2 linked regions of the Homo sapiens genome follow. The protein of the gene in region 2 purifies or fractionates together with the protein of the main gene of each other region. This does not show direct contact. Each region holds a gene or a part of one and is shown on either strand. Other genes may lie near its edges.

The links.
Region 1: the proteins of ATG4C (region 2) and KLHL22 purify together in Homo sapiens (affinity purification with mass spectrometry; 2 studies listed by BioGRID and IntAct, with this or other methods). This does not show direct contact.

The regions. Positions count from the first base shown.
Region 1 is NC_000022.11:20,468,075-20,471,997, forward strand, and holds part of KLHL22 (kelch-like protein 22), read right to left. Parts: intron 3,442-3,923; coding exon 3,276-3,441; intron 1-3,275. UniProt on the Homo sapiens protein: Substrate-specific adapter of a BCR (BTB-CUL3-RBX1) E3 ubiquitin ligase complex required for chromosome alignment and localization of PLK1 at kinetochores.
Region 2 is NC_000001.11:62,856,984-62,860,906, forward strand, and holds part of ATG4C (cysteine protease ATG4C), read left to right. Parts: intron 1-3,923. UniProt on the Homo sapiens protein: Cysteine protease that plays a key role in autophagy by mediating both proteolytic activation and delipidation of ATG8 family proteins.

The sequences.
Region 1 (3,923 bases), on a different chromosome or scaffold from region 2:
GCAGGTATGTGCCCTACATGAGGTATCCCCATGGTGCTTTGCTAGGCCCTGACCAGCTTCACTTGACCTTCTTTTTTCCCTTTTTGCCAGTCTTCTGCTTTGCCACTTCTTCCCAAACTACTAGGTTTTCCTAAAATTCTGGTTTGTCATGGGCCAGGGTCCTGAAGACCAAGTTTTGGGCAGAATGTGAGCACAAACAGCCCTGAAGAAGCCTGGGCAGCAGCAGCTCCTTGAGAGGACCCTGCTGACTCTCCTTTCAGTCCTATTTTTAGAGCAGTGGGCCTTCTGTTCAGTGAAATCTCACAGAGGAACCAGCCTGGGCTCAGGATGTGCAAAAGCCCCATACGAGGCTCACAGAAGGGACTGCATTTGCTTGGGGTAACCCAATAGGACAGTGTTACTGGGAATCAGACTCAGGCCTCTGGGGACACCGTGAAGAATCTGGTCCCAGGCCTACTGCAGGGCACAACACATGGGGGAAGCCTCCAAAAGTCACTAGCTATGTGAACATACATGATTCTACAGGCCTATGGACTTGACATGGTTATGCCAAGTAAAACCTGCTATAAAACAATATTGTGAAGAAGCCTGTTTTTTTTTGTTTGTTTGTTTTTTGTTTTGAGATAAGCTGGCATGTAGTGGTGTGGTGATCACAGCTTACTGAAGCCTCCACCTCCTGGGCTCAAGTGATTCTCCCACCTCAGCCTCCCGAGTAGCTGGAACTACAGGTGCATGCCACCATGCCCGGCTATTTTTAAAGTGCTTCTGTAGAGGTCTCGCTTTGTTGCCCAGGCTGATCTCAAACTCCTGGCCTCAAGCAATCCTCTCACCTTGGCCTCCAAAAGTGCTGGGATTACAGGCATGAACCTCCAAGCCTGGCCCAGAAGCCTGATATGTTAAAAAACTAAGATAGGCTGCTGCCTCTGAGATGACCTCTGAGGCACTGGGGGAGATGACCCAGGGCTGTCGGGAGCACTGGCCAAACCAACAGAGAGAGACTGCAGGCCTCCAAGCTGACTGGTGAGAGAGGGAAAGTGATGTTAGAAAGATGATCTGGTTTCAGTGTGTGTGATCACTGCAGGGAGAAGAAAGAAATGGCAGAAACATACAGATGGAGGCCAGGCAAAAGGGAAGGAAATGGAAACACAGAACAGAGATGGCTACAAGCAATACCGAGAAGGATGACCTGTCCTCACATGGACGCAGGGAATTAAGAAGGTGGACGGGCTCAAGGAGCCACTGAGGTTGAGCCCAGGGAACTGGCAGGATGGTCACAGGACACACAGAGCAGGGGGACTGACAGGGGAGCTCCGGGAGAGTGGCAGGTGTGGAGGAGGAGATAGGACAGCTGGACCTGAGCCATGCTGGGGGAGATGTTTCAGAGGCAGCTGAATCAGGAGTTAACTGCTGCCAGGGTGGAGAATTGGATGAGGGTTCCCAAAGCAACAATGACAGGGATGTGGGGACAGAAGAGATCTCTAAATAAAAGAACAGGGGGAAATTCTTTTGTTGTAAAAGCCAACTCCATCTACTCACCATGCAGGTATGGTGAGACAAGTCAGTCATCTCAGATCAACCCACCCAGCATCCAGGTCCTATCCACCAATCTGAGAACAGGGCACAGGGAGGCTGCCAGGGCCCTGTCACATGGGGTGGCACCTCCACATGCCCCCGAACAGGTTGGTTTTCCTGTGACTTGAGTTGTTTTTTTTTAATTGCGTCAAACCTGCTCTCATGGGAAGAAAGGTCAGAATGATGAACTTAGCATAGCATTTTGTTTCACTTTTAAGAAATGTGGGAAGAGGTGACTGTCAACTCCTATCAGGCCTCTGCCTGATAGCTCAAAGGCACCTGCAGGCCCAGTCCCGTGTAACTGCACCCACACCACTGAGAATAATCATCCAAAACATAAGTCACACTGTCAAAGCCTCAGAAAACTTTTTGAATTCTGCAGGAAAACAAGTACTTAAAGTTCAATAACAGGTTGGGTACAGAGGCTCACACCTGTAATCCCAGAACTTTGGGAAGCCAAGGTGGGAGTATCACCTGAGGCCAGGAGCTTGAGACCAGCCTGGGCAACATAACAAGGCCCCATTCCTATAAAAAAATATATATATATATAATATCAGCTAGGCACAATGGCACGCATCTTTAGTCCCAGCTACTCAGAAGGCTGAGGCGGGAGGACCACTTGAGCCTAGGAGGTGGAGGCTACAGTGAACTATGATCATGCCATTGCATTACAGCCTGGGTAACAGAGTGAGACCCTGTCTTTAAAAAAAAAAAAAAAATAGGCCAGGCGCAGTGGCTCACACCTGTAATCGCAACACTTTGGAAGGCTGAGGTGGATCACTTGAGGCCAGGGGTTCAAGACTAGCCTAAGCAACAAAGCAAGCCTCTATCTCTATAAAAATAATTTAAAAATTAGCCAGGTGTAGTGGCACATGCCTATAGGTCCTAGCTATTTGGGAGGCTGAGGCAGAAGGATTGCTGGAGCCCAGGAGGTTGAGGCTGCAGTGAGCTGTGATCGTGCCACTGCACTCCAGCCTGGGCAAGAGAGAGAGAGCTTGTCTCCAATAAATTGAATGAGTGGATGGATGGATGGGTGGATGGATGGATGGATGGATGGATGGATGGATGCATGCATGGATGGATGGATGGATGGATGGATGCCTGCCACCATGGATGGATGCATGCATGGATGGATGGATAGATGGATGGATGGATGGATGGATGGATGGATGGATGGATGGATGCATGCATGCATGGATGGATGGATGGATGCGTGCATGCATGGATGGATGGATGGATGGACAGACAAATAGATAGATAAAGTTCAGTAACAAAACACATAAGTTTTCAAGAGACTGAAGTGGCCCAGTGAGGGGACAGGCAGGAAGGGCCCTGGCAGCAATGCTGGTGGATGCTCCCCATTGCCAGACCCCAGAGCACACAGGACGTCCACATGCAGCCTCGGGTCAGCCTACCTGCTTATGTGCAGGATGCTTTCAATGACAGGGAGACTCAGACAGTGGGGAAACAACCAGCAATAGAGAAGAGGGCAAAGGCAGAGGCCTGGGGTGTCTAGAGCGGCTCTGCTTGAGCTCCAGGAACAACTCCAGAGTCTTCCCCACTTCATGGCCTTCGTCACTGCTTGGTCTCCTCACATTCCTGACCCATCTTCAAGCCAATGCTAGTGCCCGGCAGGCATCATGGGCATCTCAGGGAACCCCACCTGGGTGTGGGTCTGCCTTGCTAGATGAGACATGCCTCACCTGAAGCTGGCAGGCAGCCACCAGTGTCTCTTGTACATTGCTCAGGCTGAGCTCCAGCTCGGAGGTGTATATGAAATGTAGGATTTGGCACATAGCATTGTAGGACACACCGTGGATCAGGACCTCTTCCTGTTCCATCTCCTTCAATCCCCCAGCAAACATTCCTCTGCAAAGTGAAGACACAAGAAAATGGAGTTATACCAACAGGGACTTAAGCCCATGTTGCCAAGAGTGACAGCATTCAGAGAAGAACCTGGCGCTGGTGGCAGGGCCCTGGTAGTGGGCTGACCCACTCTGTGCTCTGAGTGAACTGTGTGCATGCATGAGCCATCCCACAAAAGGATCCTGACGAAGTCTGGGCAGCCATCCTGGAAATTGTCCTGTTTCCCTTTTCATGGGCCCAAGGAGTCCCATGTGAGCTTCGGGAGGTGAGGCCACAAGCAGCTTGCTTCTGCTGTGTTCATCAGTGCAGTTCCTGGATCGGAGCAGTAGCAACTCCAGAGCACATTTCAAAGCAATGAATTAATTAATGGGAAACTAATAAAAGTCATTTCATTCAATGTATATTTATGGAGTTCCTACCAAATGCCAAGTATCATTCAAAGAGCAGAAGGAGGCCAGGCACGGTGACTCACACCTGTAATCCCA
Region 2 (3,923 bases):
GCTGGCTTGCTTTCTGTTCTTTGAACATGCAAAGTTTGCTGGCATCCTAGGACCTTTACACTCTGATTTCCCTGCCTAGAGTGCTCTTCGCCCAGAACTTTTATGTCTGGCTCCTTATTGTCATTCACAGGGGCCCCCAGCCCCTGGACCATGGACTCGTACCAGTCTGTGGCCTGTTAGGAACCAGGCTGCAAGCAGAAGGTGAGCGGCGGGTTAGCGAGCGAAGCTTCCTCTGTGTTTACAGCCATTCCCCATCACTACTCGCATTACCACCTGAGCTCTGCCTCCTGTCAGATCAGCGGTGGCATTAGAGTCTCATAAGAGTGTGAACCCTATTGTGAACTGCATATGCAAGGGATCTAGGTTGCATGCTCCTTATGAGAATCTAAGGCTTGATGATCTGTCACTGTCTCCCATCATCCCCAGATGGGACAGTCTAGTTGCAGGAAAACAAGCTCAGGGCTCCCATTGATTCTACATTATAGTGAGTTGTGTAATTATTTCATTATATATATTATATATTGCAATGTAATAATATAAATAAAGTACACAATAAATGTAATGCACTTCAATCATCCTGAATCCATCCCCACCCCCCCAGTCCGTGGAGAAATTGTCTTCCATGAAATCAGTCCCTTGTTCCTGAAAGGTTGGGGACTGCTGGTTATTCAGGTTGCAGCTTGGTCTTTTCTGACAACACATCTTAAAGAAACCTTCCAGTCCTTCCTTAGCACATGAGCCGGTTTTATTTTTATTGTGGTTCTCATCTCTGAATGGTGTACAAACACCATTGGTTATCTGTTCAATACTCATCCCTCTTTCTTTTTTGCTAAAGAATCCTGATTTTGTTTGCAGTGACAGTACCCACCAAATACTCGCTTTTCTAGCCTCCTATTTCTTTAGAAATAGTTTGGTGTAAGTGAAATATAAGTGGGTGTGTGCTGGAAGTTTCTGGGAAGGCTTTTGCTCTCCTGCTGTAATGGGATGTAGATGCAGTGCTGTCCTCTTACATCTACCTGCCCCTTCCTTGAATTTAAACTAAACACTTGGGGTTTCAACAGTCCTATTTGATTCAGAGAGAAAGGCCAAGAGAATTGTAGAAGCTGTTCATCTGACATCAATTAATCAAAGTAGCAATGTCAGGCTGGTGAAAACAGTTCGTATTATTTGACATTGTTGTTATTGTTTTCTATTATTTCTTTCTTTGTCACTTGCAACAAAATCATTCCTAATTAATGTAAATGTTGTTGCCATTGATAGTAGGAGGAAGAAATGGAAATTTTATGATCAATTTAAGTTGATGTTGCAGTCATGCCTCCACTGACTACTGTTGGAGGTGGTAGTGGTTACACCAGAACAAAACTACCTATGCTTAGATCCTGACTGTGTCAGTTACTAGTTGTGTGACCTTATACGAGTCACCTAACCCCTCAATATTTCAGTTCTCCCATCTGCAAAAACATGGATGATAAGCCTAGCAGAGAAATTGTTGAGACAGATAGTAGGTAATATTAAGGAAGAGAATATAGAAGGAGTGAATGTAGACAGAAGATAAAGGAACAGTTGATTTTTATCTGCATTTTGGGATGTGGAAATAAGTAGAATCAATGAAGGAGGAGATAGAGAAGAAATCGTTCAGAAAATAGAAGGAAAAACAGGAAAGCAAAATATCTCAGAAATCAGGGAAATGGTATTTTAAGAAAGAAATACTCAGCAGTGTTGATTGCAGTAGAAATAATAGGAACTAATAACAGGCCTTTTTATTTGAGGGCTAGAAGAAAGTATTTTTTTAAGAGAGTGTTTTAAGTACAGTGAGGGGTAAAAGTTGGATACAAGGATTTAAGATTGTGTAGTGAGGAAATAGGATAGTTAACATCACTTGCACACTTAGTTCGACTATATGAGCTCTTGTAACAAAAAACAGGAATATATTTTTCCATGTATACTCTTTTTTATATACAGTCATACATTGCTTAATGATGGGGATACATTCTGATAAATGTGTTGTTAGGTGATTTCATTGTTGTGCGAACATAATTGAATGTACTTGCATAAACCTGGATTTGTGTAGCCTACTGCACACCTAGGCTGTGTGGATGGGTTGAGTATCCCTAATCTGAAAATCTGAAATCCAAAATGCTTCAGAATTCAAAACATTTTGAGTGCTGATATGATACTAAAAGGAAATGCTGTTTGGGACATTTAGGATTTCAGATTTTGGATTTTTGGATTTTCAGCTTTGGGATGCTGAACCAGTAAGTATATATAATGCAAATATTTCAAAATCTGAAAAAAATCCAAAATGGAAACACTTCCGTCCTAAGCATTTCAGGTAAGGAATATTCAAACTGTATAGCCTGTTGCTCCTGGACTACAAATCTGTACAGCATGTTACTGTACTGAATACTAGAGGCAATTATAACACAATGGTAAGTATTTGTGTATCTAAATGTATCTAAACATAGAAAAGATATTATAAAAAGATGGTATAAAAAATAAAAAATGGTGTACCTGTGTAGGGAATTTACCATGAATGGCACCTGCAGGACTGGAGGTTGCTCTGGGTGAATTAGTGAGTCTGTGGTGAGTGAATGTGAAGGCCTAGGACACTACTGTACACTACAATAGACTTTATAAACACTGTACACTTAGGCTACACTAAATTTATGAGAAAACATATTTCTTCAATAATAAATTAACCATATCTTTCTGTAACTTTTTTTTTTCTTTTGAGATGGAGTCTCGCTCTGTCGCCAGGCTGGAGTGCAGTGGTGCAATCTTGACTGACTGCAACCTCCGCCTCCCAGGTTCAAGCAATTCTCTGCCTCAGCCTCCTGAGTAGCTGGGATTACAGGCGCCCACCACCACACCTGGCTAATTTTTGTATTTTTAGTAGAGATGGGGTTTCACCATCTTACTGTAACTTTTTAACTTTATAAAGTTTTAAATTATTTTTAGCTTTTTGACTGTTTTATAAGCACTTAGTTTAAAACACAAACACATTGTACAGCTCTACAAAGATATTTTCTTTCTATTCTTATTCTATAAGATTTTTTCTATTTTTAAAATTTATTCTTTTCCTTTTAAACTTTTTTGTTAAAAATGAAAACACAAACATACACATTAGTTTAGGCCTACCCAGGGTCAGGATCATCAATACCACTATCTTCTACCCCTACATCTTGTCCCACTAGAAGGTCTCCAGGGATGGTAACACACATGCAGCTGTCATCTCCTATGATAACAGTGCCTTCTTCTGCAGTGCCTCCTAAAGCACCTGCCTGAGGCTGTTCTACAGGTAATTTCTTTTTAAAAAAGTAAAATGAGTACACTCTAAAATAATAAAAAATTGTATAGTAAATACTTAAACCACTAAGTCATTTATTATCAAATATTATGTACTGTACATAATTTTATCTGCCATACAATCAGTTTGTTTACACCAGCATCACTACAAACTTGTGAATAATGCATTGTGGAATGACATTATGACAGCTGTGACAACACTAGGTGATAGGAATTTTTCAGCTGCATTATTATCTTATAGGACCACTGTTGTATGTGGTCCTTGTTGACTGAAATGTTATTCTGTGGCACATGACTGTACTATTTACATAACTATATATTTTACATTTATACATATTACTGAACAGTGTTACATCCACAAGATTATGCATATCACCCTTTAAACAATTTAAAGACTTGTTAAAGGTGATTTTTGACAGTGCTTGATTTTGCAGTATGGGCTGACTTTAGAGCTTAACCCCTACATAGGGTATAGCTCTAGTGTGGTGAATATATGCTACATAGATATACACTGCCCTGTACTGGGGAATAATTTTACATATATGGTGGCAGGGACTAGTGGAAAAAGTTTTGGCTTGAGGAGAAGTGATCATCTCCTGGTTCTATTTCTGTCCTAC